Linked DNA regions of Homo sapiens: all the other regions are linked to region 1. Evidence: fine-mapped expression QTL. A gene starts in region 1. Each other region holds a variant in brackets. All regions are shown on one strand. Distances are from middle to middle.

What was found. PIP is the estimated chance that this variant, and not a neighbour inherited with it, causes the effect. A credible set is the group of variants that fine-mapping cannot tell apart.
Region 2: its variant is the best candidate, but not a certain one, in a credible set for the expression of KAT2B in blood mononuclear cells (TOPMed, PIP 0.78).
Region 3: its variant is the best candidate, but not a certain one, in a credible set for the expression of KAT2B in lymphoblastoid cells (TwinsUK, PIP 0.67).
Region 4: its variant is the best candidate, but not a certain one, in a credible set for the expression of KAT2B in blood mononuclear cells (TOPMed, PIP 0.51).

Annotation. Positions count from the first base shown.
Region 1 is chr3:20,037,085-20,045,314 of GRCh38, forward strand. It overlaps KAT2B (lysine acetyltransferase 2B), which reads left to right and starts at 3,362. Exons shown (of 18, transcript NM_003884.5): 1 at 3,362-3,696. The coding sequence starts at 3,394. RefSeq lists silencers at 2,624-3,263, 3,434-3,563, 3,764-3,823 and enhancers at 2,987-3,957, 4,674-4,863, 6,225-6,394, 6,475-6,634.
Region 2 is chr3:20,119,919-20,124,829 of GRCh38, forward strand. KAT2B (lysine acetyltransferase 2B) reads left to right here. Exons shown (of 18, transcript NM_003884.5): 9 at 2,750-2,886. Among named protein-coding and RNA genes, the nearest start is that of MIR3135A, 15 kb to the right of the region's middle. The variant C/T (reference allele first, on the strand shown) is at 2,326.
Region 3 is chr3:20,075,225-20,083,454 of GRCh38, forward strand. All of the region lies in intron 2 of KAT2B (lysine acetyltransferase 2B), which reads left to right. Among named protein-coding and RNA genes, the nearest start is that of KAT2B, 39 kb to the left of the region's middle. The variant CT/C (reference allele first, on the strand shown) is at 3,978.
Region 4 is chr3:20,137,290-20,145,519 of GRCh38, forward strand. KAT2B (lysine acetyltransferase 2B) reads left to right here. Exons shown (of 18, transcript NM_003884.5): 13 at 2,932-3,075. It overlaps MIR3135A (microRNA 3135a), which reads left to right and starts at 276; the gene lies at 276-352. RefSeq lists a silencer at 3,854-4,054. The variant T/C (reference allele first, on the strand shown) is at 4,551.

The sequences.
Region 1 (8,230 bases):
TTCTAAAAGCAGGTGTCTGGGAAGAATGTCAGTCATGGTCCATGTACTGGGCCAAACCTGCACTTTGACCACTTGATCTGTACCCTTACAGTCTGTGCCTTTACTGGGGATAATTTCAATCCATCTGTGGGATTCAGGGTTACTGGTACATTACAGAAGCTGTATAGCCTTGGTAGGAAGGAATATGGCAAGAAACTCTGCTAGATGATATAACAATAGATGGCCACAAAACTTGCCTTTTTTAGGAAGGCATCTCTGAGCAAGGAATACCAGATGAATAGGGTTAGCCATGCTGTTTGGTGGAGGGTATCCACATAGTACAGCAAATGCAAAGGCCCTGAGGTAGGAAAGCATTTCCTGAGTTTGGCTGAAGTATACTGCAGCACCAGGGAGAATGGGAAGGGGTGGACCTTATCAACTTCTTGTTATATAATCTCGTGTTCTGAAGTTGAAATTTTATTTTATTGCTATGTACCTTTTTAAATCTTTCCCTTACTTTTGAATTTCCCATGCATTTATTGAACATATACAAAATTGTGCTTATATGTCAATGTGAGTTTGTTTTTAACATAAATGGTATTATGCTGCACTGAGATTTATTCAACAGTGTTTCTTAGAGATCTATGTTATTATATTTTTATAAAGGTCATTGTGTATAACAGGTATAAAATATTCTGTTGTGTGAATATACCACAAGTAACCTCCAGTGGTCAGCCTGCCTCTACCATGCCCACTCTCCAAGCTTTTATTTTCTGAATGTAGCTTCTTTACCTCAGTAAGTGGTAAATACTTTGTAAATGAAAACATTGCCTTTTATTTTCTTGGTAGTTATTTCTTAAAAGTACTGTGTGCACAGAAAGAGCACACTGAATGCTTACAACAACCTAATTATGGAAAAGCAATAAGCCTCCTGAATCCTTTGCCCTTGAAATTTCCTTGCCTGGTGCTCATAACACACTTTGAATAGGTCTTGAAACCACGGGCCTTCAGCCTAAGGCAGTATGTCATCTGGGTACTCTGAGCAGGGAAATAATGAAAAATAATGTTCAGTTAATGGCACAAGCCATTCGCCACTCAGACAGTGATGGTTTTCAGAGTGGATTGAAAGGAGATTGGCTACTTCTGCTTCAAAACATCCTGGAAATTGTCTGCCTCCTGAATTCTGAGGGACGCTTGGGAGGAGGAGTTGATAGGTGACTTAATGTTAAATCTGGGTTCCCTCCCCCAATTGTCACTGTGAAAATTTTCAAACATACAGAAAAGTTGAAAGAATTGCGCACTGTGCCCATTACCTAGACTCTATTATATGGACCCCTATTTGCTTTATCATATCTCTGTTCATCCACCCTTTACCCATGCATGGAGGCATCCATACATCTTATTTTTGATGTATCTCAAAGTACAAAGAGCACCATTAGAGTTCAATGCTTGTGATTTTTCTTTTTTTAAAAATTTTTGAGGCAACATTTATATCCAGTGAAATGTACAGATCTCAAGTGGATCATTCCATCAGTTTGACAAATGCCTGCAAGGTGGAACCCAAGCTCTTATTAGTATCTGTTAAATCCATGTTAGAGGTTGATCAGAGAAGCACAGCCTTTAAGACTCTCACCCTGCTTTGCGGAGAATGGCAAAAATCTGCGAAACATCTCAGCAGAGCCAGGAGAGAGTAACACTGGTAACGTGAAGCACGTCAAGCTAAGAAAGGAAGCACTGAAATTAATTGTCCTGAATGGAACCTGATAAGAATCTGCCATTTCATCCCCTCAAGACTGGACTCAAGTTGGGAGAGAATATTGCCTTTTGCCCTGTCTAAGCTAATATCACTGTTTAGATCTACAAACTCCCCCACCTCCCAATGTTTATATATTAACCTGCATTACAAGTCAAAATAACACAGAGAATCTGGAAAAAGAAGAAGGGGAATGTTTCCCACGAAAAGCACACCCCTTAAAGCGTCTGGCCTGAGAGCTATACAGCATGCATAAAATCTGATAATAAGCACATTATGACCCACATTGCATATAACAAAAAGTAGGGCACTTCTGAAGGGTCCTGAGAAAAAGCCCTGGGCTTTTAAAACCTGCTTAAGAAGGCGATCAACGGTACACCACTTTCAAACGCAGCACTGACTTGTATGCTCCACAGTCATCAACAGTGAAAACAACAGTTTTCAACAAGAGTTGGAAACACTGAGTTGAGGGTTTTTTTTTTCTTTTTAAAGTTTGAGGCCAAAATCGATATTTATTCTTTTGAATTATGCTTATATCTTTTTCCTGGTTAATACGCACGCGGTGGCACAATTTTGAAAACTACGTAACGTTATAGAACCACCACCCAGAAACGAATCCTGTTAACAAACTTTTTGTATTCAAACTTTTTCCACTGCATAGTTTTTGACAATGCTTTTTAGACAATCTTTCTTTTAGCAACCAGCACTTTCAAACAAAAATTACAGAGAATAGTAAGTTTTTTTCCCCTCCTCCGGCAGATTTGACCCAGAAATTGCTATGGGAAGAAAGTGTTAATTATATTAAAAAATAGTTTGACAGAAAGTATTTAAAAAGAGAAAGGGAGAACATCACGTCTTTATTTTGGTGAATTAGCAACAAAGAAAAAGATTAGCATGGACGGGTACTTTTCAAAAATATATTTTTTTTCCTCTGGCTCCCGCTAGGGTGGAGGAAGTTGTCTCTCTGTCAGAGACAGGGTGGAAGAGAGTGAAAGGACAAATGATTGAGAGGCTGCCCCCTCCCACTGGTGCAGGCGTGCGGGGGTCGGATGGGGGGCCGCGGAGGGGGGAGGTGGCCAGCAGGTGCCTGGGCTCCAGGCCCCTACCCCCACCCTCGTCCCCACCCTCACCCACACCCAGGGATTGGCCTCGCCCCCTGGCGGGCGAGCGGTAGGTGTCGAAGCACTGGGGTGGGGGGTGCAAACCCCGCGGGCAGCGGAAAAGAGGCCGTGGGGGGCCTCCCAGCGCTGGCAGACACCGTGAGGCTGGCAGCCGCCGGCACGCACACCTAGTCCGCAGTCCCGAGGAACATGTCCGCAGCCAGGGCGCGGAGCAGAGTCCCGGGCAGGAGAACCAAGGGAGGGCGTGTGCTGTGGCGGCGGCGGCAGCGGCAGCGGAGCCGCTAGTCCCCTCCCTCCTGGGGGAGCAGCTGCCGCCGCTGCCGCCGCCGCCACCACCATCAGCGCGCGGGGCCCGGCCAGAGCGAGCCGGGCGAGCGGCGCGCTAGGGGGAGGGCGGGGGCGGGGAGGGGGGTGGGCGAAGGGGGCGGGAGGGCGTGGGGGGAGGGTCTCGCTCTCCCGACTACCAGAGCCCGAGAGGGAGACCCTGGCGGCGGCGGCGGCGCCTGACACTCGGCGCCTCCTGCCGTGCTCCGGGGCGGCATGTCCGAGGCTGGCGGGGCCGGGCCGGGCGGCTGCGGGGCAGGAGCCGGGGCAGGGGCCGGGCCCGGGGCGCTGCCCCCGCAGCCTGCGGCGCTTCCGCCCGCGCCCCCGCAGGGCTCCCCCTGCGCCGCTGCCGCCGGGGGCTCGGGCGCCTGCGGTCCGGCGACGGCAGTGGCTGCAGCGGGCACGGCCGAAGGACCGGGAGGCGGTGGCTCGGCCCGAATCGCCGTGAAGAAAGCGCAACTACGCTCCGCTCCGCGGGCCAAGAAACTGGAGAAACTCGGAGTGTACTCCGCCTGCAAGGTACGCGCTCGCCGCTCTCGGACCGCGGATGGGTGCTAGGGGCCCAGCCCGCGGGACCCCCCTCCCCCTCCCGCTTCCACCTCCGCCTCCCGCCTCCTGCCTCTCGCCTCCCGCCTGGGGCCGCTGCACCGCGGAAGTGCTCTTGTCGCCCGCGCCCAATTAGCTTCTTCTTGGATAAGAGTCCTGCTGGGTTTGAAGAAGGGGGATCACTAAGACGGAGAGCCCTTCATTCCTTCCGCTTGAAAGGAGTAGCTTCGGCATCCGAGCTCCCGGGCTACCTTGGGGTTTTGTTGCTCTGTAGGAGCTCGCTGGAGTCACTTTCCCGGGAGTGGAGCGGTGCTCTCCATGTGGCGGGTGACCCAGGGGCAAGGAAAAATCTTTTGGGGGACTGAGTGGTCCCTTCTGCAATCGATCCCTTCCTGTGTCCCACTGGGAGGAACTGGGTGCAAGGAGTGGGGGTGGAGAAGACTCCCGGACTCCTGGCGCTTTGGGAAAGCGAAGGGGAGGAAAGCGCGGGGTGGGAAGGTGGGCAGAGTCCGAGGCGAGGGTCTTGTGGTGCCTGGCGCCCTCGGCTGGGGGCGGAGGCACTGCCGCGCGCGGTGACAGCCCTGTCATTATTGTATTATTACTTGTTTAGTTAAAACGCTGTCCCAGCTGCTCGAGGTGTAAACAGGATTTGGCAAAGTGACAGCCCAGCGCGGCGGGCGCTACTGCTCAGTTTGAGGACACCCATTTCTTGCTACCCACTCTCCATGCCAGTTTAGGCACCCTGTCACCTCCAGCTGCAGATCCAGATGTGGAGGCTGTGTTCCCGAGGTGGGAGGATTGCCCGAGGCCGCGGGGCAGGCTGGCCCTGCGCTGTCAGCAGCGGCTTTGTTTTGACAGGGTGACAGCTGAGGGGGGCGGGGACTTGGCCTTGTCAGCTCCTGCGGCCTGTGGCTGAGGCAGGGAAGAGACACACTCACACACACTCACACCTCCCTGTATTCTTCCTGCCTGCTGTAAAGAGGGTCAAGTTCCCAGATTCCAGATTCCCGATTGTCACAACCAAGCTGCAGTGACCACTTCTGAATTTTGACATAACTATAATTTATTCTACTAGAACATCTAGGTTATACTCTTCTTGGTACTTGCAGGAGCTTCTCAGTCACAATGGAATGTCTATGCTTGCTCTTTTTCCACACCATATGCTCAGGTTTATGTTAAGCACCTCTGTATCCTACACTGGTTCAATAAATATTTGTTGAGTGAATGTAGGATCTAGCCCAGTGCTCCTCAAACTTTAATGTGCATGGGAATCTCCTGGGGAAGCTGGTTAAAATGCTGATTATGAATCAGGTGGTCTGAGGTGGAAGCTGAGAGTTTGCATTTCTGACAAACTCCCAAGTGATGCTATGCTAGTCCACAGACCACATTCCAATTCAGACCTGGACAATATATTATTTGTCCCCTTTGATTTTAGCAGAAAAGACAGAAACAAATAATAATGCTATGTGGTTATTTCTGAAGAAGGAATGCAAAAAAGATGAAGTGGGGAGTGTGCTTCTAAGAAAGGTGCAAGCCCAGGAGTTGATCATGAAGGGCATTAGACGAATGAGAACAGGACACCGACTGTAGTAGGCAGAAGGGCGAGCTATGTACAGAATTAAGAACAAGGTCATGGGTACAGGGCATACTGCTTGGGTGATGACTACACCAAAATCTCACAAATCACCATTAAAGAACTTATGTAATCAAACACCACCTGTTCCACAAAAACCTATGAAAAAAAAGAGCAAGGTCAATTACTTGGTGGCCTTGGCGTTTCGCAGCCAAAGTGGGCTCATGCAGGAACTGTCTCAACTCAGTGTTTCTGTTCTGGCTTTATTTTAAAATTTATTTATTGGGTTCTCATCACCAGCACCTCTTAAAGACTTCCTGCTGCCTGCTGTAGCTTTAATATCTGAAAACTTTCCTGAAGTTTTGGTTTTGTCTAAAACCATGAGCATATGTGGCCTGCATTGATATTTTTGATCTTTTCAAATTTCCATGGGTGAGATGTAGCACCACTTCCAAGTGGGATTTGAGTGTTTCCTGGTCACTTTCATGACCCAACAAGAGAAAGAGAAAATTTATTTTAACGTCTTTTTTTTTTTTTGAGACAGGGTCTCACTCTGCCACGTAGGCTGGAGTGCAGTGGCATGATCGTAGCTCACTGCAGACTCAACCTCCCTGGGCTCAGGTGATCCTCCTACATCAGCCTCTTGAGTAGCTGGGACTACAGGCATGCGCCAGTACACTATTATTATTATTATTTGTATTCTTTGTAGAGATAGGGTTTCACCTTGTTGCCCAGGCTGTTCTCAAACTCCTGAGCCCAAGCAATTTGCCCGCCTTGCTTCCCAAAGTGCTGAGATTATAGGCATGGGCCACCATGCCTGGCTGAAAGTGTTCATTTTTATGTATCCATTCATTCAGTAAATATTTAGAGGGTTACCAACTGGGTGTCAGGCATTGGGCTAGGTGCTGGGCCTATGACACACAGAATTTGTCCTTCAGGAGTTACTTATTGTGTGTGTGCACAAGTGCATGTGTGTGTATGCATGTGTTGGGGGCCTAGGGATGAGGGCAGTGAACCAAAATTACAGAGAAGTTCAGAAAAACTACTTTCTTGGAGTAGTTGCGGACCCAGAGCAGGACAGTTCATAGACTGGGGCACTGGTAGGGTGGGATTGGCTTCCTGGAGGAAGTGTCAGTGGCTGCTAAGAACTCTTGGCAGGGCAGAGTGGGGTGGGGTGAAGCTTCTTGTAGTGGAGAAACTGAAAGCAGTTGTGGAAGCTTGGAGGTGGGCCAACTGAGCCAGACCTTTGTTGCCTAGGGCCACCGGCTGGGGTGCGTGGCCAAGAGGGCACTGAGGAGTGCAGGAATCTTAACCTGGAGAGTGACATTATCTCAGATTTGCTTTTTTTAAAAAAAAAAAAAATTTAACTGGACTTGATTGGGTACGAGGGAGTGTAAGAGAGCAAAATCTGTGGTTCTCTCTCAGCTTGTTTCTGCACTTAATATGAGCAAGCCCAAAAGGACAGATTGCTCTACCTTTGCCACAGGCCCCTTGGCAAGTTAGATTAGAGAGATTAGAGAATGAGGAGGGATCTAGAAAGAGATAAGGTAGTTCACTGGGGGGCTTTTGAAAGAAAAACAGGTCCCAGGCCTGATATAAATCTGGCCTTTAAACTTCACAAACGAAACCAAAAAAGAAGGGAGCTAAGTCAGCCAGGGTGACGTGCCACACCCCAGAGAATAGAAAAAGAAAAAAAAAAAAGAAAAAAGAAAAGAAACAAACAAACTTGTTTCGCAGGATCCAGATCTTTGAACTGTGTCCTGGTAAAGGTTGCTTCAGAGTCATTTTGGTTCTGTGTTCATTAAAAATGTAGATCTAGGCCAGGCGCAGTGGCTCAGACCTGTAATCCCAGCACTTTGGGAGGCCGAGGCGGGAGGATCACTTGAGTCCAGGAATTTGAGGCCATCCTGGGCAATATAGTGAGACTTCGTCTCTACAAAAAATAAAAAATTAACCAGGCGTGGTGGCAGAGGTTGCAGTGAGCTGTGATTGCACCGCTGTACTCCAGCCTGGGTGACAGAGCAAGATTCTCCCTAAAAAAAAAAATAAATAAATAAATAAAATAAAGTAGATCTGACCATGTTATACCCACACTTCAGGCCCTTTAATTTCTCTTTATTGTGGTCCACAAGGCCCTGCATGGCCTGGCTACTGCTATCTGTGGCTCCTTATCGAGGGTTCAGGCACATGGTTTCCTTTCACCTAGTCGGGGGTGAGGTGGGGTGAGGGGCTTTGCACATGCTGTTCACTGGGACTGGAAGCTCTTCTTTCCACATTTTAAAATTAACTCCCAACCCTTCCTATAGAACTCAGATTCCTTGCCTTTCCTTTACCCCCCTGAGCAGCCTTCCCATTAGAAATTATCCAAATTCATCTGTACTCTTCCTGGTGCTTATATTATGATTTTTATGATTTGTATGATTATTTGATGTGCATTTAGAATCTTTGAATAGATTCTTAGCCATGCGGTTATTGACTAAGCGAATGAACCAGAGAAGAGAAAATGGAAGAAATGATTAGCTGTGATGTTAGCAGTTGTGGAATTTTAACTTAATCACTTCTTGACAACTAAGTAGAGATTTGTCATATAGGACAGTTCTAGGTGTCCCACAGATATTGATAGGATTGGGTTATTTATTTATTTATTTTTTTGAGACAGGGTCTCGCTCTGTCACCCTGGCAGGAGTACAGTGGCGTGATCTTGGCTCACTGCAACCTGTACCTCCCAGGCTCAAGTGATCCTTCCACCTTAGCCTCCTGAGTAGCTGAGACCACAGGCATGCACCACCATACTTGGCTAATTTTTGTATTTTTTTTGGTAGAGATGGGGTTTCGCCATGTTTGCCAGGCTGGTTTCCAACTCCTGGGCTCAAGCAATCTGCCTGCCTCCACCTCCCAAAGCGCTGGGATTACAGGTGTGAGCCACTGCACCTG
Region 2 (4,911 bases), 81 kb after region 1:
TCATAGCTCACTCATTTGGTGTGTTGCCTGAGAGTTGGCTGATTTCAGCTAGTCTCACTCAATCTTGGCTGGGCTTGGTTGCAAGTTACCCATTGATTATAATCTCTGTTTTGGGCTTGGCTTGGCTAGAGCACTTAAGCTGAAGCAACTCTGCTTCACATATTTCTCATAATTTTCCTGGGACTATTGGGCTACCCGGAACATGTCCTTCTTGTGATGAGAGAGGGCAGGAAGAAATACACAGTCTCTTGAAGCCTAGGCTTGGAACTTGTAAACCATCACTTCTGCCACATTCTTTTTTTTTTTCCTTTTCTTTTCTTTTTATTTGAGACAGAGTCTCACACTGTCACCCTGGCTGGAGTGCAGTGGTGTGATCTCAGCTCACTGCAACCTCTGCCTCCTGGGTTTAAGTGACTCTCCTGCCTCAGTCTCCTGAGTAGCTGGGATTACAGGTGCCCACCATCATGCCCTGCTAATTTTTGTATTTTTGGTGGAGATGGGTTTTTGCCATATTGGTCAGGCTGGTCTCAAACTCCTGACCTCAGGTAATCTACCTGTCTCGGCCTCCCAAAGTGCTGGGATTATAGGTGTGAGCCACCATACCCTGCTGACTTCTGCCTCATTCTGTCGTCCAAAGCAAGTCACGTAGTTGAACTCAGAGTTGAGAGGTGGAGAAGTGGAAAAAGGTAGTCTATTCCTTTCGTAGGAATAACTGCAAAGTCACATAGCAAAGAGTGTAGATACCAGGAGGGTAAAGAATTTGGCCATTAATGTAATCTACCACATGGGCAAAAATATCTCTTGAGCCTAGAAGCATTTCACAGTTAGAGAATGTTTTGAAGGTTGCATTTCTGTCCACAGACTTGACGTCAGACAAATCTTGGATGTGACCAAATTTTTAAATAAAAGAAGTACCATGAAAGAGGGAAAGAAGAGGACCTTATAATATAAGAAGTGCCATATATTTAGCATATGCCACCATTCCCTTTCACTTCCAAGGGAGATATCACTAATTCATGCAGAAACTCTTTACCAGTGAGCTTGGATTCAGCCTCAGACTTTTTAAAAAAAATCATAAACACCATTAGCAGTCTAACAAGCAGAGGGCATATCAAGTACAAACCCCAGCTACGAAATAAATAGTTTTCAGCATTACTCTTAGGGAATCATGGAATTTGAGGACTTATTGGTCAGATGTCTGAAAATATTGTTACTTGTCTCCAAAAACAAACAACAAAAAATTGTAAAAAAAAGAACTCGACAAAAGTGATTTAGTAAATAATATGTAATACTTCTGGAAGAATCGTCTACAGTCAAGTTACTTTATACTGTTCTGCTCCTTTTCAACTAGAGATAGTGAGAATGCTATGTGGAGAATGTTATATTGAGATAGCAGTGGGATTCACATGTGAGGAAATAAATTAGATCTAGACATCTTAAAAATTCAAAAAATTTACTTGTAAAAATAAATACATGTTATGTCTGGAAAAAACTGGAAAAACCAAACATGAGAATAGAAAGGAGAAAAAAACTACCATGCAATCTCATGAGGAAAGCGGAAGAAAGTTCTCTCTGCCTTTGCATGGCTCTCCTATTGTGTGGAATGGTGAGATTGCATCTACTTGATAGGCTAGTGGTCCTGCTCACTTTGTGAGGCATCATTTTAGGGCAAAAAAGCATTGTAAAAGATAAAGTGTGTCATTTTATAATAGAAAATTAAATCCATAAATTTGTTTATTAAAAATAATTTATGGTATATTTCAAATATATAGCTATATATACATAATATATATGCATACATACACATATGCATATGTGTGTGTGTGTGTGTGTGTGTGTGTGTGTGTGTGTGTGTGTGTGTGTGTATAGCCAAGCCCAGCACAGAGATTCCAATCAGTGGGTAGACTCATGAACAAGCCTGCCAAGATTGAATGAGATGAGCTGAAATCAGCCACCCATCAGGAAACATACGAAATGAATGAGCTATGATAGTAAGTTATTATGGTTTAAGACTCATTTGGGGTTGGTTTATTACATAGCAATAACTAACCAATAAAGCCCAAAGCCTAATGCAAACTGATTTCCGTACATATATGGTGGGGTGCCGGTGGGGGCGGGGTGGAATTAACATGACTACAAGGAGAAATAATCAAATCAACCAACGGTTGAGGCTTTAAACAAACAACTGAGTAATTCATAGGTCAAACAGACAAAAATATCAGTAAGGCTCTTACTGATATCCATACAACATGATCTGTAAGCTGAAGCTAATGGAGTTATAGAGATCAAAATATGAAAATACACATTCTTTCCAAGAAGACACTG[C/T]ACATTTACAAAAGATTGGTCTTATTTTAGGTCATAAGGTAAAAATTTCAATCCATTTTGACGTTTTGGTGTCATATGGACCATGTTCTCTGACCTTGAAGAGACTATATTAGAGAGTACTAACAAACAATAGCTAGAATCACCCCTTTGCATTTGCAGATGAAGGAACATGTGCCTTAATATTTCATGTATCTAGTTAAAAATCATCATAGAAAGTAGAAAATATTCACAATGAATTGGGTTGGCAGTTATTGTGAGCTCACAATGGCTCTCTTTCCTGTCTTCCTTTGTCACCCCTTCCCCTGGTGGTAAAGATAGAGTTGACCTCCATGCCCATCAATGCTGTTAGAAAATTAGTTGGCGTGTATTATTTGTTTTGTGTTTAGAACCACCCATTGTTTGCCTTTTATTTTGATCATCATAGGAGAAAAGAGGAAAATGACTGATTCTCATGTTCTGGAGGAGGCCAAGAAACCCCGAGTTATGGGGGATATTCCGATGGAATTAATCAACGAGGTTATGTCTACCATCACGGACCCTGCAGCAATGCTTGGACCAGAGGTCAGCAGGGTAAACCTGGGCAGCCAGCTGGTAGACCTCTTCTGCTCTCCTGGCCACTCCAGCTGTCAGAAGTGGGGATGCTAATGCTGAGAGTTAACATGTTATGCTACCCTGGTTTGCATTTAACCTGGTGGTCAGTGTGGAGAGGGCAGGAACAACTGATCAAGAGGTAATTCCCCTTGATGAATATCACATCACAGGTCCACTTACTAATAATCTCACAGTTGAAGGCATCATTCCCAGCTTTTTATCTTGAAAAATTTCAAGCCCTCATAAATGTTGCAGAAATTCTGTAATAAAAATCCATAGACTCTTTACTGAGATTCAGCAGTTAACATTATGCCACATTTGCTACCTCTCTTTCTCTCTGCGCCTCCCCATATGCTCTTTTTCTTTCTCTCCCCACTCCCCATGAACCATTTGGAACCATTTCAGAATTAAAAACACATGTCATAATACTTCACCCCTAACTATTTTTGCATGTACTGTATCTCATAAGGAAGCTATTCTCTTACATAACCACAATGCAGTCATTACTCTTAGAAAATTTAGCCTGGTTACAATATTTTCTAATACAGGGTTGGTGAATTACAGCCTGCAAGCCAAATCTGCTCCACTGGCTGTTTTTTTCAAATAAAGTTTTATTGAAACATATTGTTTGCAGCTGTCTTTGCATTACAACAGTAAATTTGAATAATTGAGACAGGGAATGTGTGGCTTGCAAAGTATGAAATATTTATTATCTGGCTTTTCACTGAAAAGTTTGCTGACCTCTGGCCTAATATAAAACCGTATTTAAATTTCCCATATAGCCAGATGATGTCAGTTATAACCTTTGTTGTTGTTGAAGGATCAGTTAGGGATTGTGCATTGCATTTAATTCTTATCTCTTCATTTGTTTAGTCTCCTTTAAAACAACTCCCCAGCCTTGTTTTGGTCTTTTGCAGCACTGCCATTGGTGAAGAGTCTTGGTCGCTAGTTTTGTATAAGGTCCCTCTTTTTGGATTTGTTGATTGTTTACTAAGGATTAGATTCAAGTAAGGCATTTTTGGTAAAAATGCTGCTGTCATCTCATTGCCTTGCATCTGAGGGCATGCAAGGCAATGACATTTCTTAAGACATACCTGTCTTAAGACATTTCTGACAGCTTCCAGGAAATGAAGAAATGGCTTGGAGATTATATTACAGTGTTAATTTTCAATTTGTCATGTTTCTTTAAATATTTATTTTATGACATTGAGGATACTTCAGAGAACCAGAATGTTGTAATAGAAAAATCTCTTCCTAAAATTGATCTTTCCATTTCCTCCTAGATGTCCAGTCTGTGAGGGCTTAAGACTATAGTTTTTTAGGGATTTAGTAACATTACAGATTAGCTGAGTTTAGGTTTTTTTCAGCTATAAAATGGGGATTTGTACTAGTCTATTGCATTGCTACAAAGAAATACCTGAGACTGGGTAATTTATTTTTTTAAAAAAGAGCTTTAATTGGCTCACAGTTCCACAGACTGTACAAGAATGGCATCAGCATCTGCTCAGCTTCTGGGGAGGCCTCAGGGAACTTATACTCATGGTGCAGGGTGAAGTGGGAGCAGGCACATCACATGGTGAGAGAGGGAACAAGAGAGTGAGGAGGAGGAGCCAGACCCCTTTAAACCACCAAATCTCATATGAACTAACTGAGCAATAACTCATTCATCAACAAGGGGATGGTGCTAGGCCATTCATGAGGGGTCTGCCCTGATGATCCAACACTTCCCACTAGGCCCCACCTCCAACATTGGAGATTGCATTTCAGCATGAGATTTGGAGGGGTCACACATTCAAACTACATCAGGATGCAGTCACATGTTTGAAAATATTTTGGATATATTAATATTTAGTAGTGTACTAGAGCTGGCTTGTACTGGAATGCACAAGAAAATTGTTAAATTTTCAGGAGTTTTGTGAGCTGGTTGTTCCATATGTTGGTAGCTTGAAGTTGACTAGCATGGCACCTGGTTACCTGGATAGCCAGTTCTGGACT
Region 3 (8,230 bases), 38 kb after region 1:
CTGCACTCCAGCCTGAGCGATATTGCGAGACTCTGTCTCAAAAAAAAAGAAAAAAGAAAATATAATAGTATAAAACTTTTTTCTATTTTACTCAACACAGAACACTTCTGTGACCAGATGTGTGGGTTTTTTTTTTCTTCACTCACCAAGCAATTCTCCCACTCTCTGAACACTAGCTGGAGGTCCCATAATTCATTTCGGTTCTGACATGACCTACTTGGAGATAGCATCACATCCCACAGGTTAAGGGCACAGTCCCACAATAGTGCTCCCACTTCAGATGCCAATTGCAAGTCCCAGGTTATGACCTTTGCTTCTGACCTACCGGCTATAAATCAGGGTTCCCATCATACCCCTTCCTTGGTTTCAATAATTTGCTAGGATGGCTTACAGAACTCAAGGAAACACTTCAGTTTACTGGTTTAATATAAAGGATACACAGACAGCCAGATGAAGGGATGCACATTGCAAGGTTTGGGGAAGGGGAGTGAAGCTTCCTTGCCCTCTCCAGGTGCACGACCCCCCAGGCACCTCCACATGTTCAGCAACCTGGAAGCTTGAGCCTGTAATCCCAGCTACTTGGGAGACTGAGGCATGAGAATCGATTAAACCTGGGAGCAGAGGCTGCAGTGAGCCGAGATCTCACCACTGCAGCCTGGGCGACAGAGCGAGACTCCCATCTCAAAAAAAAAAAAAAAAATTTTTTTCATACGGCTTTATCTCTACACTTTCCCTCCCTTACCTTTCTTGTAGATTGATGGGTGGGGTTGAAGGTTCCAATCCTTTAATCTTCTAATAACCTGGTCTCTCTGGTGAGCAGCTTCATCCTGGGTTATCTGTGCACTATCTTAAGTCACCTCATTAGCATAAACTCAGGTATGATCGAAAGGGGCTCATGATGAACAATAAAAGATACTCCTCCTGCTCAGGAAATCCCAAGGGTTTTAAGAGCTTGTGACAGGAACTGGGACAAAGACCAAGTATATTTCATACTATACCACAAACATGTATTTTAATATATATGATCAGGAAAAGGTCTGGAAGGATGTATATTGAGTTGCTGACTGATTTTCTCAGGGTACGGGGGGTATAGGTATTTAAAAAATATTTCCCCCTACTCCTTCCTTTCTTCCTTGTTTCTTCTCTATTCTTTAGTCTGCTTTCTTAAAACTGAAATTACTGCACATTTTCAAGTGGTCTTGGAATTATTGTTGGAATGCCAGTGTTTATTTATTGGTCTTAGTATAACAGCTCTAGAAAACCTTTTTCTGAGATTACTCTTCCTTCCTCCCTCCTTTCCGTGCTTTTTGAAAAACTTTTTTTCTTAATGGAAAGTTTCAAACACCCGTAAAGGCAGAAGGGATAGTTGAATGAACTGCCTTGGACTCAGCACCCAGCTCTAATGATTATTTACATTTGCCAATTTTGTTGTATCTAACCCCCTGCTTTTATTTGCCAGAGTATTTTAGCAAGTTTCCTACATTTTTTCTTATCTTATTCATGCAGATATCTTCTTAATTGTTACCGACAAAGTACAAGTTGGGGTCTAGGGAATTCTGTTAGGAATTACGCAAGCCTGAATTCTCAAATACATTTCAGTTGGTATACATTGTTGTTCTGTTTTCACATACAGTAGTCACCATTCTGAGCATGGTTGATTTACTCACCAGTAATTGTACACACGAAATGAAATATTCTTGAATTTGTCAGAACAAAACATACTGGCTTATTGATTGAGATAGTATCAATTCTATTGATTAAATGTTGGGTTTCTTTTGCCTCAGCCATATATGTTCTTTGGAGCTGTGGTTTTGTGTAGTCTCCTGACAATTTCTTTCATCCCAGACATCTTTGGTCTACCATAATTTAATACTGTTCTGTGTTTCATGGACATAAAACACAGGAGTGAGATAGTCTGATCAAGTAGAAAGAACATTCAGTTGGGAACTAGGAAGTAATAATTCTAGCCTGTCTGGGTATGGTGGTTTGTGCCTGTAATGGCAGCTACTCAGGTCGCTGAGATGGGAGGATCCTTTGAGCCCAGGAGTTTGAGGCCAAAGTGAGCTGTGATGGGGCCACTGTGTGTGTAGCCTGGGAGACAGAGCAAAACCCCACCTCTAACAAAACAAAACCAAGAAAAGAATTCTAGCTTGGCCCTGCAGTTTACCAAGTTCCTTAACCTTTTTGCTGTTTAGTATCTCCATCCACAGAATGAAATGGTTGGTCTAGACCTATGCTGTACAATACGGTAGCCACTGGCCACATGAAATGTGTTTACTCTGAATTGAGATATACTGTAAGTGTAAAATACACACAGTTTTTGAAGACATCATAAGCAAAAACAATGCAGAATGTCTCAGTAATTATATTTTATATTGATTATATGTTGAAATGATAATATTTTGAATATGTTGGGTTAATGTATTATTAAAATTATTTCTACTGGAAAATTTAAAAATCACATTGTATTTCTATTGAATTGTGCTGGTTTAGAATATTCTAGTTCATTCTCTGAAATTATATTTGGGATTGGCACAATAATATTCAGTTTACAAAAATTTGACAAAGGGATCTAACAAAGTGCTTTAGTTGGTCCCAGCATTTCTCCTTATTTTAGTATTAATAAAGATTTTTCTTATTTTGGGACTGCTATTTAAAAAGCAGCTTGGGTCTTGCATGGTGGCTCACACCTGTAATCCTAGCATTTTGGGAGGCTGAGGCAGGTGGATTGTTTGAGCCCAGGAATTCGAGACCATCTTGGGCAACATGGCGAAACTCCACCTCTACAAAAAATACAAAAATCAGCTGGTGTGGTGGCATGTGCCTTTTAGTCCCAGCTACTCGGGAGACTAAGGTGGGAGGGAGGATGGCCTGAGCCTGGGAGGCAGAGGTTTCAGTGGGCCGAGATCGCACCACTTGCACTCCAGCCTGGGTGGCAGAGTGAGGCCCTGTCTCAAAAATAAATAAATAAATAAATAAATAAAAAGGCAGCCTGTTTTTACGAGCAGGAAAGTAGGAAACAAATCCTTGTGATCAAAACATAATTGGAATTTCTATTGTTATTTTGGAGTCCATTGTTCTGAACTGTTTCAGAATAGACTGATTATTAAATTTGTCTAGTAATAATATTTTAGTTTAGAGGTTTTTTGATTATTTTTCAGTGTTGTCACCTTTTTCTTTCTCTTCTGTCCAGGCTGATGTGCAGTGGTGCGATCTCAGCTTACTGCAACCTCCCCCTCTTGGGCTCAAGCGATCCTTTCACTTCAGCCTCTCGAGTAGCTGGGACCACAGACATGCAGCAACATGCCCAGCTAATTTTTTTTTTTTGTATCTTTGGTAGAGACGGATTTTGTTATATTGCCTGGGCTGGTCTCAAACTCCTGAGGTCAAGCGATCTGCCCACCTCGGCCTCCCGAAGTGCTGGGATTACAGCTACCGCACCCTTCATCATCTTTTTCTGATATATGTGTATATATATGTATATATATATGTACACATTCAGCAGTGGGAACTGACTGTTTTTTGTCACTATAGATTCCTTGCTTTTCTGCTTGTTTACAGTAGGGAATTTCTTTTCTGTTAACTTTTAAAATTTTGAGTTAGGCAGACCCCTCACCCTACAACCAGAATTGATTCAAAGAGACTCCCAGAGCTTTTTTTTTTTTTTTGAGAAGGAGTCTCACTCTGTTGCCCAGGATGGAGTGCAGTGGCGCGATCTCCACGATCTCAGCTCACTGCAACTTCCGCCTCCCAGGTTCAAGCAATTCTCCTGCCTCAGCTTCCCAGGTAGCTGGGATTACAGGCTTATACCACCACACCCAGCTAATTTTTATAATTATTATTATTATTATTTTTTAGTAGAGAGTGGATTTTGCCAAGTTAGCCACGCTGGTCTCAAACTCCTGATCTCAGGTGATCCACCCGCCTCGGCCTCTCAAAGTGCTGGGATTACAGGCATGAGCCACCACACCTGGCCT[CT/C]TTTTTTTTTTTTTTTTTTTGCCACAGAGTCTGGCTCTGTCACCCAGGCTGGAGTGCAATGGTGCAATCTCGGCTCACTGCAACTTCTGCCTCCCAGGTTCAAGCTATTCTCCTGCTTCAGCCTCCCAAGTAGCTGGGATTACAGGCACCCACCACCATGCCCGGCTAATTTTTGTGTTTTTAGTAGAGACGGGTTTTATCATGTTGACCAAGCTGGTCTCAAACTCCTGACCTCAGGTAATCTGCCCGCTTCAGCCTCCCCAAATGCTGGGATTACAGGCGTGAGCCACCGCTTCTGGCCTGAGACTCCCAGAGATTTTTAAGGAAGGTCAAGAGTTAGCTTTAACAATCACACTAGAGCTTACTTCTTGAGTATTATGAAGAAAATACCAGTATTTTTCTCATGGATATTTCAAGTATTTAAATCATTTAGGCAGATCATTTGACTCAACACATTTTCTTTGATCATACGACATTTGCATAGACTTGTACCATATAATTGCCCCCTCAGTTCCCATTTATACATGTACTGTGCAGATGCCAAAGGACGTAAACATGGGGCCCAGCTAGCACAATGACACAGCCTCCTGAATTGAGCCAGCATATTCCTCTTGGCTGGATGTCCACTGCTGGCTAATGCAGCCTTTCAGATGCCGGTTTCAGAGTTTTCAGGAGCTGTGGGTCGGGCACAGCAGGAGTTAAGGGGATAATACTGGTAATATTTTCTCTGCTCATTTGGTATAAGTTATGTCTCCCTGACGTCCTCTGGTCATGAAATCCTGTTTGATACTCCCTTCAAGTTCCTGCCTCTAGCACTGGCTGAATTTAGGCTTTTCCTCATTATTCCTTGCCTGTGTCTGCTGCAGCTTCTGGAGTTCTTATTTCCATTCCTGCATACCTGGCTTTCCCATAAAGTGATGATACAATGTGATCCCATTCTCCTGCTTAACCCCTCTGAGCTTCTCATTATCCTCAGAGTGAAGGGTGATCTGTAGTTGAGCAAGCAGGTTCAGTTCATTGAGGCCTCTTTATTTTCAAAGCTTTTCTCCAATTATCTTCATTGCATTTTGGCCATCAGGCTGCTCCATGTTCTCCAAAGGTTCTTTGAACTTTCTCCCACCTCTGCCTTAGATCTGGAAGCTCACACCACCTTCAATGCCTTTCCTTCATTTTCTGCCAGGGAATTCTGCTTATCCTCCAAGGCTTGACTGCAGAACTCTGTAGAGAGAATAAAGGCCTTCTTAGAGCTCTGTGGCAATGTTCCTTCTTATATAACTATAATTATATACCAATCTGTACTGAACTGTGATTAAGAGTTGACTTTTTCTCTAGTTTGTAATATATTTAGTTCGTTGTGCATAATTGTGCTTATTCTTTTGTTGGTAAATAGTCATTGAATTCAATAATGGTAAAATGAGGGCTGGTTGCATATATTTGCAGAGGAGCTTTCAAAGTTTATAATCTATACCTGCTGTGTCCAACACAGTAGCCACTAGCCATGTGTGGCTATTGAACACTTGCAATTTCACTAGTTTGAATTGTGCTGTAAGCGTGAAATGCACACAGGTTTTGAAGACTTAGTACAAGAAGAGGAATGTAAATAGTAACTTTTAATATTGCATACGTATTGAAAGAATAATACTTTGGTATATATTAGGTTAAATAAAATATATTATTTAATGAATTTCACCTGCTTCTTTTGTCTTTTTAAACACAGCTACTGGAATACTTAAATTTACATATGTGGCTTGCATTATATTTCTACTGGACTGCTCTCATCTAATGGGCTCTTACTCTTAGGCTTCTCTTTTTTTTCATTCCAGATCTGAGATTACAGAAAATGAAACCACTTTTAAATGATAAGCCTTTTGCACATTAGTCAATTTGACAGATTTCATTGTAGTCATTAATTTTACCTCTTCTAGCCTCGATGCCAAATTCCCATGAACAAAAAATGTATTTGAGCAGCCTTCAAATCCTATTGTGTTATTTGCTTCTGGTCCAGAGGAGCAGGGACATGTTAGCTGCCTGCCCAGCTGCTGCCTGTTCACACTGCAGGGCATGTGAGGACTGGCTGACTGTCTTCACGAGAAGTGCAGGCCAATGATACACGGAGCCAGAGGTTAGTGAGGGTCACGGCACACAGTGACAGTGTGCTTCCTGTTCTCAGCAAGGTTGACAGCTGCACCGTGATTCTTGGCAGCAGTCACACGGCGGGTCACTCTCTGGCACCCTGGGTGTTTGCAAGTCTGACACAGCACTGAGAGGTGCCAAGGTATACCCTTCTGGAGTGATCTAAAGAAGGCAAAGCCTCCCCTCGTCCCCTCACTTGCACCTTCTGTCTGCTTTCTTGTGCCCTTCACACAAAGTGGACACTGGGGGAACTGTGGCCCACCAAAAGGAATAAACTTTGCCACAGCTCAAGGGTTGGTCAATCTTGGGTAATTAGTGTATATCAATGCTTTGTATCAGGCTCTTGGAAGACTATTTAAAGTAAAAGCAGGATTCTTTAATGATCAAATTCAGGTGGAGGAAAGATTGTAAAAACACTTTTAATTTGCAAATAATTAAAAATTTACATAAAAGTCATGAGAATAATAACGAAGAATATCCCATAAATCCTTTCCCTAGATTTACCTATTAGTAACATTTTATTTTATTTGCTGTCATTGGCTCATATATATATATGTATAAATGTATATAGAGAGTCTCATATATATATATATATGAGTCTCTACGTATAAATTTGTTTTTCTGGAACTATATGAGAATAAGTTACTTATATATCATAGCCCTTCCTCCCCTAAATATTTCAATATACAGTTCCTAATAATAAGGTTTTCTTTTTTTGAAATGGAGACCCACTCTGTTGCTCAGGCTGGAGTGCAATGGTGCAGTCTTGGCTTACTGCAGCCTCCACCTCCTGGGTTCAAATGATTCTCATGCCTCAGCCTCCCAAGTAGCTGGGATTACAGATGCCTGCCACCATGCCCAGCTAATTTTTTTATTTTTAGTAGAGATGGGGTTTCATCATGTTGGCCAGGCTGGTCTCGAACTACTGACCTCAAATGATCCGCCCTCCTCAGCCTCCCAGAGTGTTGGGATTACAGGCTTGAGCCACTGCACCCGGCCACGGTTTTCTCTTAATAACCTCAGTTCAATTACCAACTTTAGTAAATTTAACATTAATATAATACCTTTATCTAATCTACTGTTTGTATTCTAATTTTATCTGTTGACCCAAAAATGTTCTTTATAACATATTTTCCTTTCCATTAAGCCTCCACTCAAGAATCACATATCTGTTTAGTTGTCATGTCTCTTTAGTTTTCTTTAATCTGGAGTTCCTCAGCATTTTATTTTATTTGTTGACTTTTATAACATTGACATTTTGATGGAGGAATGTTTTAAATTTTAAAAACAAACTCTTTAAAGAGCTAGGAAAAATACATTTTTTGTTATTTTTTGTTTATGTAGGAAAAACCTTTGCAAGCAAAACCTTAAAGAACTGCCAACGTAGATATGGCTTTCTAAAAAGATTAACATTTTTCTACAACCAAACCAAATAAACCAAAAATCCCTCCCCACCAAATACGTAAGCATTTGCAATGAGTATGGCAGACTAAAGGTAGTACATAAGGTTTATTCAAGGTGGTAAGAAAAAGACTAACATCTTAAAAACCAAGCAAAGGAACTCAAATTGGCAGGTACACAGGAGATCAAATACAAACAGCCAGTAGTATGAAAAACAAACAACTCCCTGGGCCTTCCGTTGAATGCAGATCAAAACAGTAGGGGGTGCTTATTAATTTTCAAAAGATTGGTTAAATTACCGAGGATGGTTCTCCACTGTAGGCAGAGCACAGGAAAAAGGAATAGTCTCTCACTACTGATACAGTGTACATTGATGCACATCTTGATGAGGGAGGTTAAATTAGGGAGCGATACATCAAAGTTTTACATAGCAGCGACTTCATATCTTGAGTTTTGTGGCAGGTTGACTGCTATAGATTTGTGCATTGTAGTTTATAGATTTTTATTTTATTTTTTAGTTTTTAATAATATGCTCCTAGACTCATAAATAATAGAGGCCTATCTCTTTAAGAAAACATACTTTTAGATAATTGAAGGGAGCCTATTTGCATCAAAAAGTCTTCTTAATAAAAGGTTAAGAGAAGGGTTTCTTTTAATAATGAATGACTCTTTTTGGTTTAATATGAATTGATTGTCAGTATAGTAAATAGTTTAGCTT
Region 4 (8,230 bases), 100 kb after region 1:
TATAATATTGCATCCTAACATTCTAAAATATGGTTTCTAATAAGAAATTCCCAGTCCTGGAATTTGGTGGGTAGCATTCTCTGTGAATGAGAAAAACAGATTCAGTTTCTGGAAGGCCTCCATTTATGACAGCAGAAAGGAAATCCTGGAGTTTATAAAAACCTGCAAACAGTCCTGATTCTACAGCACATAGTGGGCTAGGAGCTTGGCTGTCATCTTTGCAGTTCCTTCCTTTCTCCGTTCCTCCCTTCCTTTTTTTTTTTTGAGACAGGGTCTCACTTTGGTGCCTAGGCTGAGACTGCAGTGGTGCAATCTCAGTTCACTGCAGCCTTGACCTCCTGGGCTCAGGTGATTCTCCCACCTCAGCCTCCCAAGTAGCTGTGACTACACCCAGCTAATTTTTTGTATTTTTAGTAGAGACAGGGTTTTGTCGTGTTACCCAGGCTGGTCTCGAGCTCCTGGACTCAAGCAATCCACCCACCTCGGCCTCCCTAAGTGCTGGGATTATAGGCGTGAGCCACCTCACCAGGCCTCTGTCCTAGCAGTTTCTTATCAGAAGTTTTCAGCTCAGGCCAGGTGCAGTGGCTTATGCCTGTAATCCTAGTACTTTGGGAGGCCAGGGCAGGAGGATTGCTGTGCTCAGGAGTTTGAAACAGCCTGGGCAACATAGTGAGAACTTGTCTCTCTTTAAATAAGTCTTAAAATAAGTTTTCAGCTCAGCTTTTTGAGGACTATTCTTTGACTGCATATTATTTTTAATAGTGATTTATAATTCCTAAACATTTTCATTTACTTTTCTGACTATAAAAGTAATGTGTAATCATTGTAGAAAATGTAATAAAGCAAAAGAAGGAAAGAAAAATGGCTTGTAATTCTGTCACCCCAAGAAATTTACTGTTAATGCTTTGATTTTTTTATTTTAAAATTTTTTCTGTTATTTTTCCTCTCAGCTCATACCTATGCTGTTAATGCTTTGACATAAATCTTTTTAGTATTTTTTCTGTGTGTATATAAACATAAAAGTTGGTTCATACTGTGTATATAATAATTTTGGTGGTTTCCTAGGATTTTGTTGTAGAAATAGAAAATATTTAACCAATACATTTTTGACTAGGTGTTTCTTGTAGGTAATGTGCATGTGTATGGGTGTGTGTTTGTGTACATGTTTTGCCCTCATTGATGGTAATTTGCTTAGAATAAATCAAGGTTTTTGTAATGTGTTGCTAAATATTTTAAAAATTTCCATTTTTGTCAGCAGTGTATAAGGGGGTCAGGAAAGGAGTTGGTAACTGAAAAAAAATTTACCACTTTTCCAGATAATAAATTGTGTATGTTTGAATTTATTTATGTGAAGTTTGATTTATTTTTCCATGTTTATCAATTCTTTGTATTTGTTCCTTTTTTGGATTGCTAATTCATTTTCTTTTGTCCCTTTTTCTATAAAAATGTTTAGTTGTACATTGATTTGTGAGAACTATTAGTATATAACTATATTAACCTTGGATAATATTTGTTTCAACATTGCTTATGGCTTTTTCTTTAAATCTTCAGAATGTTAAAGATGTTATTACATAAAATCTATTGACTTGTTTTGGTTTGGATTTTGTTTGTTTGTTTGTTTTGAGACAGGGTCTTACACTGTCACCAAGGCTGGAGTGCTGTGGCATGATCATAGCTCACTGCAGCCTCAACCTCCTGGGCTCAGGCGATCCTCCTGCCTCAGCTACCTGTGTAATTGTGACCTCAGGTGCATGCCACCATGCCCAGCAATTTTTTTTTTTTAATCATTTGTAGAGATGGTGAGGGGTTGGGAGAGAATCTTGCTATGTTGCCTGGGCTGGTCTTGAACTCTTGGACTCAAGTGATCCTCCTGCCTCAGTCTCCCAAAGTGCTGAGATTATAGGCATGAGCCACTGCACCCAGCCAGACTTCTTTTTTTTTAAAAATGTGTTCTTATGTAATTAGAAAGCTTTTTGTGCTCTGAAGACAGATAAATAATCTCCTATTTATTATCTTCTCATTGTTTGAGATGCATTTTAACTTTTATGGTAAAACTCACTGAGAACTTAATTGGATTGTTTCACTGAGGTCTTGAGCATCAGCTTTCCTCAGCTGTAACTGTAGTGCAAAGCATAAGATCTCAGCTATGGTTCTTAAATGACTTGTCTGTAGTCCTCTTTGAGGATGATGGCAATAATTACTTGGAAAATAAGTTTTTGTTGAAAGATGAGGCAGTGAACTGCTGGCGATGGTGCTGAAGTTCAAGAAATTTTCTGCAAATAACTGAAATAGATACTTAAGGCAAATTATGTTTATATTATAAATATATTATTTATAATTTTGAATATATACTCTGAAGCAGTCTGTTATTATGGCTTAAAGTGTGTAAATGAGTATATTCCAAAGCATTAATGTCATTGAAACAACCACACATTGTGACTGTCTGGAATTTTTTTGCCTGCAAAGAAAGGATTTCATTTCCTCAGAAACATTAAGTTTCTAATCACTTTATTTTTTTGACCATCTTTTCTTTGATAATTTAGATCAATGTTAGTTATTGATTTGCTGAGAATCCTGGGGACCCCCTCACCACTTTTGGAGAAATTTGCAACGGTCATATTTAATTATGTAATTCAGTACAAAATTAAACCTAATTTTTACTTAACACCTGTTTCTGTTTTAAACTTTTTAATATTTCTTGCATTTTATTAGGGCCATTTAAAAAATGTTGTCTTGCTTCCTATTTACACAGTTAGATTTCTGGTGTTTTTGAACTTCATGGGTGGTTTTAAGCTAATCCTCTTCAGAATAGTACAATGAGAACTTCAAAGAAGCTTGTCTTGATTCCTCACACAGTGCCTGGAACATAGTTAGCACTCAGTAGATATTTGGTGTATGGTGTTCATATGAATGAATTTACTTGCTTTTCAGGGTTTCTCCAAAGAAATTAAAATACCTAAAACCAAATATGTTGGCTATATCAAGGATTATGAAGGAGCCACTTTAATGGGATGTGAGCTAAATCCACGGATCCCGTACACAGAATTTTCTGTCATCATTAAAAAGCAGAAGGAGGTAAGCAGGTGGTTGACTCCCTTACCTTCTGTACAGGCCAGTCTTAGCTGGGGTGGGTTGCATTTCCTTGGGTGCTGCGTGTATGTGTTTACTGGATAGCAAACTCTCGGTTTGCTGTGGGTTATCTAGATTTCTTCTCTCTCTCTTTTTTGACACAGAGTCTCTCTGTCACCTAGACTGGAGTGCAGTGGCACTATCTCACTGTAACCTCTGCCTCCTGGGCCCAAGCAATCCTCGTACCTCAGCCTCCCGAGTAGCTAAGATTACAGGTGTGTGCTACCATGCCCAGCCAATTTTTCTTATTTTTAGTGGAGACAGCGTTTCACCATGTTGGCCAGGCTGGTCTCGAACTCCTGACCTCAAGTGATCCACCTGCCTCGGCCTCCCAAATTGTTGGGATTACAGGTGTGAGCCATCGCTCCTGGCCATAGATTTCTTTAAAGGTATCCTTGATCTGTTTCCTTTCTCGGTTACCATTTCTACAAGAGTCATTACTTTTTAAATTTGTGTAAAATACAAAATATGTAAAATACAAAATATGTAAAATATGGTGACATATTTTAACTTCACCTTCAAGCCATTTTGCATTCTGGCCTCAATTATTGTTCCCACTCTTATCTCTTTACTTTCATCTCCAAATACTCCAAGTGCATCTATTTACTATTCTCCAAAGTGTCTTTGTCCATTAGCCACCCCGTTCACTCAGCACACACATAAATCAAACCGTTTCAGGGTGTGTTCCAGTTCCTCTTCTGAACTTCTCTAGCACCAGTTTGATCCACCTATTTGAATTTCAGTTATTCATCTTACATAGACATTTACCTTACTGTATATTAATCTCTGCTTTTACTTGGCAAGTTCTGAAGGCTTATCCTTCTAGGTATTAAGTGATTTGTTATCTGGTATTGAGGTGACTTTTTTTATGCATATGAATGAAAAGAGAAGCAGTAAAAGGGAAAGGTTGACAGAGTTGAATACATAATAATTTCAAATTTTCTAAGGCAGAAAAAAAAAACACTCATGATGAAAAGAACAGAACTGGGGAGTACACAAAGGCCATTTATTGAAAGAAAGAACTTTGTGTGTTAAGTCCAGGATCACCTCCTGGCTGCTCCCAGTTGGGTGGAGTTTGCAGCTGTGTCATCCCACGTCAATTCCACTTGATACTTCTGTTATTCGTTTAGTGCACTTTTCTCTAACAAATAGCTTAGGAGGACATCTGTCTTATACCCATCTTTGTTTTCTGGTTTCTACTAACCTCCTTAATCCCAGTTCTTAGTTTTTTGTTAGGCATTATCTACCTAACAGCCCTAAAGCTTTTTACACAGTGTCTGGTGCATAGTAGTTACTCATTAAGTATTTTTCTTTTACTTAAAGTGGCTCAGTCTTGTTCTTGTGTTTCCTGGGGAAGTGAGCAAAGGCTTTTTTTTTTTTTTGGAAAATACAAACAACTTTTGTTGCTTTTTGTTCAAAGA[T/C]GTCAGCCTAAGAGAGAATTCCAAGTAGGCACTTGGAAGAGTTAATAAAGCACAGCGGGCTCCTCTCTCTCCCTGTCTCTCTGAAGAGCTGGCTTTCCTCATTGTTCTCTCTGGAGCTTAATGAGCAGGTCTGGATTCAGCAGCACATCGTTCCGCATTAGAGGCTGCTGGCCAACTAAAGCCATCACCCCGCTGTCAGCTGCTCTTTCCTCATTCCTCCTCCCAGCAGCACTAATTCATCCCCACGGTGTTAGCTGAGAGCAGGATTCCCTTGGCAGAGTCTGCAAATTCACATTGTACATGATCTGTTGGCCCTTCAAACCTACAGGGGAACGCCAGAAGCGCAGAGCTATTTTAGATGGCTAACAAAGCAGTCAACTTTTTAGAAGCCAAGGCTCCCTCCCCATTCTTTTTTCTCCTCTCCTCCCCCTCTGCCTCCAGCCTTCCCTCACACATTCCGTTGAATGGGTGATGGAGGTTTGGAGATCTTAACCTAGTTTTTAAAAAAGCTATCTGAAGTCACTTCAATAAAAATATATTTGGATTCATGTAGTATTTTTTTCCACAGAATTCAGTTGATTTTTTATAAGTATTATTTGTTCCAACTGTGAAAAACCCCTCAAGGAAGGTAGGGATTCATGGTGGCAGCAAAGAAACAGTGAATATTCTGAGGCATTTCCTAGCCCCTAAAAGTATACAGGAGCAGAATAAGTTGTAGTTGTCATTAGTAGAGAGAGAGAGAGAAAACTAGTATAGTTGGACAGGTGGACCAAGAGTGGAGAGTTAAGTGCTACTTTGTGAGTGTTGACTCCAAGGGAAAGGTAGGATCTGTAGGGGCCTCATGTCACCTGACAGGGCTTTGTGGGACATTTGTTTTGAACTGGGCAGCCTGGTGATGAAATCTGCATTAGCAGAGGCTCAGAGTCCAATGGAAACAGATTTGTGGGCACATGAACAGGTAGGACCATTGTTATGTCGGTGATGAAGGCACTATTTGAGAAAGCGCGAATAGGCTATGAGCAAGCATAATTGGGTATCTATGTGCCTGTGTGTGTGTGTGTGTGTACGTACATATACCTATGTACATGTATGTGTGGATAGGCTGGGTGGTGGGTGGGGGGATAAGTTCTTAAATCTTAATCTACATGTGACAATACAAGGAATTGGGGTTGGAGAAGCCAAAGTAAGGATGGGGAGACTCAATGCAATTTTTTTATAAGGAGACATGCAAAGACTGGGTGATGTATTGGAGATGGGGAACTACTCCACTGAAATTTTCTGCTTTGGGAGACCCTAAAACTGACAGCAGTAGATCATAGGACTGAGCTGTGGACTTCAGGAGAAGAAGATGAGGACATACTTTCATTTGGAAGGCATTGATTTTATCGTCATGGTAGGGAGTTGAAGATATTTTCTAGGGAGGTGAAGTTAATACACTAGAACACAATGAAAATATCTCCTTTCTGAGATGCAAGTCAAAACCACAATGTGATACTATCTCACACCAGTCAGAATGGCTATTATTAAGAAGTTAAAAAAATAACAGATGTTGGCAAAGCTGTGGAGAAAAGGGAATGCTTATACACTCTTGGTGGGAATGCAAATTAGTTCAGCCCCTGTGGAAAGCCGTTTGGAGATTTCTCAAAGAATTAAAAATAGAATTACCATTCCACACAGAAATCCTATTACTGAGCATATACCCGAAGGAAAATAAATTGTTCTTACAAAAAGATACATGTGCTTTTATGTTCATTGCAGCGCTATTCACAATAACAAAGACATGAAATCAATTCAGGTGCCCATCAAAGGTAGATTGGATAAAGAAAATGTAGTACATATACACCATGGAATATTATGCAGCCATAAAAAAGAACAAAATCATGTCCTTTGCAACAGTGTGGGTTTAGCTGGGGCCATTATCCTAAGCAGATTAACACAGGAACAGAAAACAAAATACTGCATGTTTTCTGTTATAAGTGGGAGCTGAACATTGGGGATATATGCTCACAAAGATGGGAACAGTAGACACTGGAGTTTCCAAAAGAGGCAAGAGAGGGAGAGGAGTAAGGGTTGAAAAACTACCTGTCAGGTACTGTGCTCACTACTTGGGCAGTGAGATCATTAGAAGCCCAAACCTCAGCATCACACAGTATACCCATAATACCCCCTGTATCTAAAATGAAAACAATAAATTAAAAAAGATCTCTTCTCCATACTGATTACTAGAGGTACAGAGAGCTTAGGACGCCTCCCATTCCCATTAACAGTCACTTCTCAGGAGCCCACAATCTTTAAGGTGCTACATGAGGTGAGTGGAAGCCATCTGTAGGTCATTGCATTTGAGAGTCCCTTGGTGAAGAGAAGGAAACTTTCAAATTGAAACAGTCTTCAGCATATTCTCTGAAGGTGTCGATTTAAGAGATTGCCCTTGGGATTCTTTTTTTTTTTTTTTTTTTTTTTTTTTTTTGAGACAGCGTCTCACTCTGTCACCCAGGCTGGAGTGCAGTGGCATGATCTTGGCTCACTGCAAGCTCTGCCTCCTGGGTTCGCACCATTCTCCTTCCTCAGCCTCCCGAGTAGCTGGGACTACAGGCACCCGCCACCATGCCCAGCTAATTTTTTGTAATTTTTAGTAGAGAAGGGGTTTCACTGTGTTAGCCAGGATGGTCTCGATCTCCTGACCTCGTGATCTGCCCACCTCGGCCTCCCAAAGTGCTGGGATTACAGGCGTGAGCCACCAAGCCCAGCCAGGTTTCTTTTTTCTTTTTTTTTTTTAAGATTTGGACTTATAATAAATAAATGGACTTAAAATAAATAAATGGAAAGCACCCATCTAGATCAGCCTTGTCAAAAGTAGCAGTCACTAGCCACATGTGGCTACTGAGGACTTGATATGTGGTTAGTCAAAATTAAGGCATGCTGTAAGTATAAAATCCTCTGATTTTCATTTCTTTCTTTTTCTTTTTTTTTTTTTAAGAGGAAGTCTCGCTCTGTCACCCAGACTGGAGTGCAATGGCACAACCTTGGTTCACTGCAACCTCCACCTCCCAGGTTCAAGCAATTCTCCTGTCCCAGCCTCCTGTGTAACTGGGATTACAGGCGTGCACTACCATGCCCAGCCCATTTTTTGTATTTTTAGTAGAAATGGGGTTTCACCGTGTTGGCCAGGCTGGTCTCGAGCTCCTCACCTCAAGTGATCCACCCACCTCGGCCTCCCAAAGTGCTGGGATTACAGGTGTGAGCCACTGCACCTGGCCAATCCTCTGATTTTCAAGAGTTCATATGAATAAAGCAATGTAAAATATCTTACACTTTTTTCCAATTGTATGTTACAATGACATTTTAGATATAATGGGTTAAATGAAATACATTATTAAAATCAATTTCACCTGTTTCTTTTTGCCTTTTAAAAATGCGGCTAGTAGAAAAATTTAAATTACATGCGTGGCTTGTATTATGTCTCTATTGGACAGCACTGATCTAGATTTACTAGGAATATACTTTTACTAGTCCCATTCATTTTATGAAGTTATTTGTTTAACTGTTAGGATTACATATTCATGCTGCAGTATTTACCAGCTATATGTTTGAAATCAATCAGGAAGTAGATTTTTTTGTTTTCCTTTGTGAATGCAATTAGTGATTTCTATTGTTTTGTTTCGTTTTTCCAAAATTTCGTT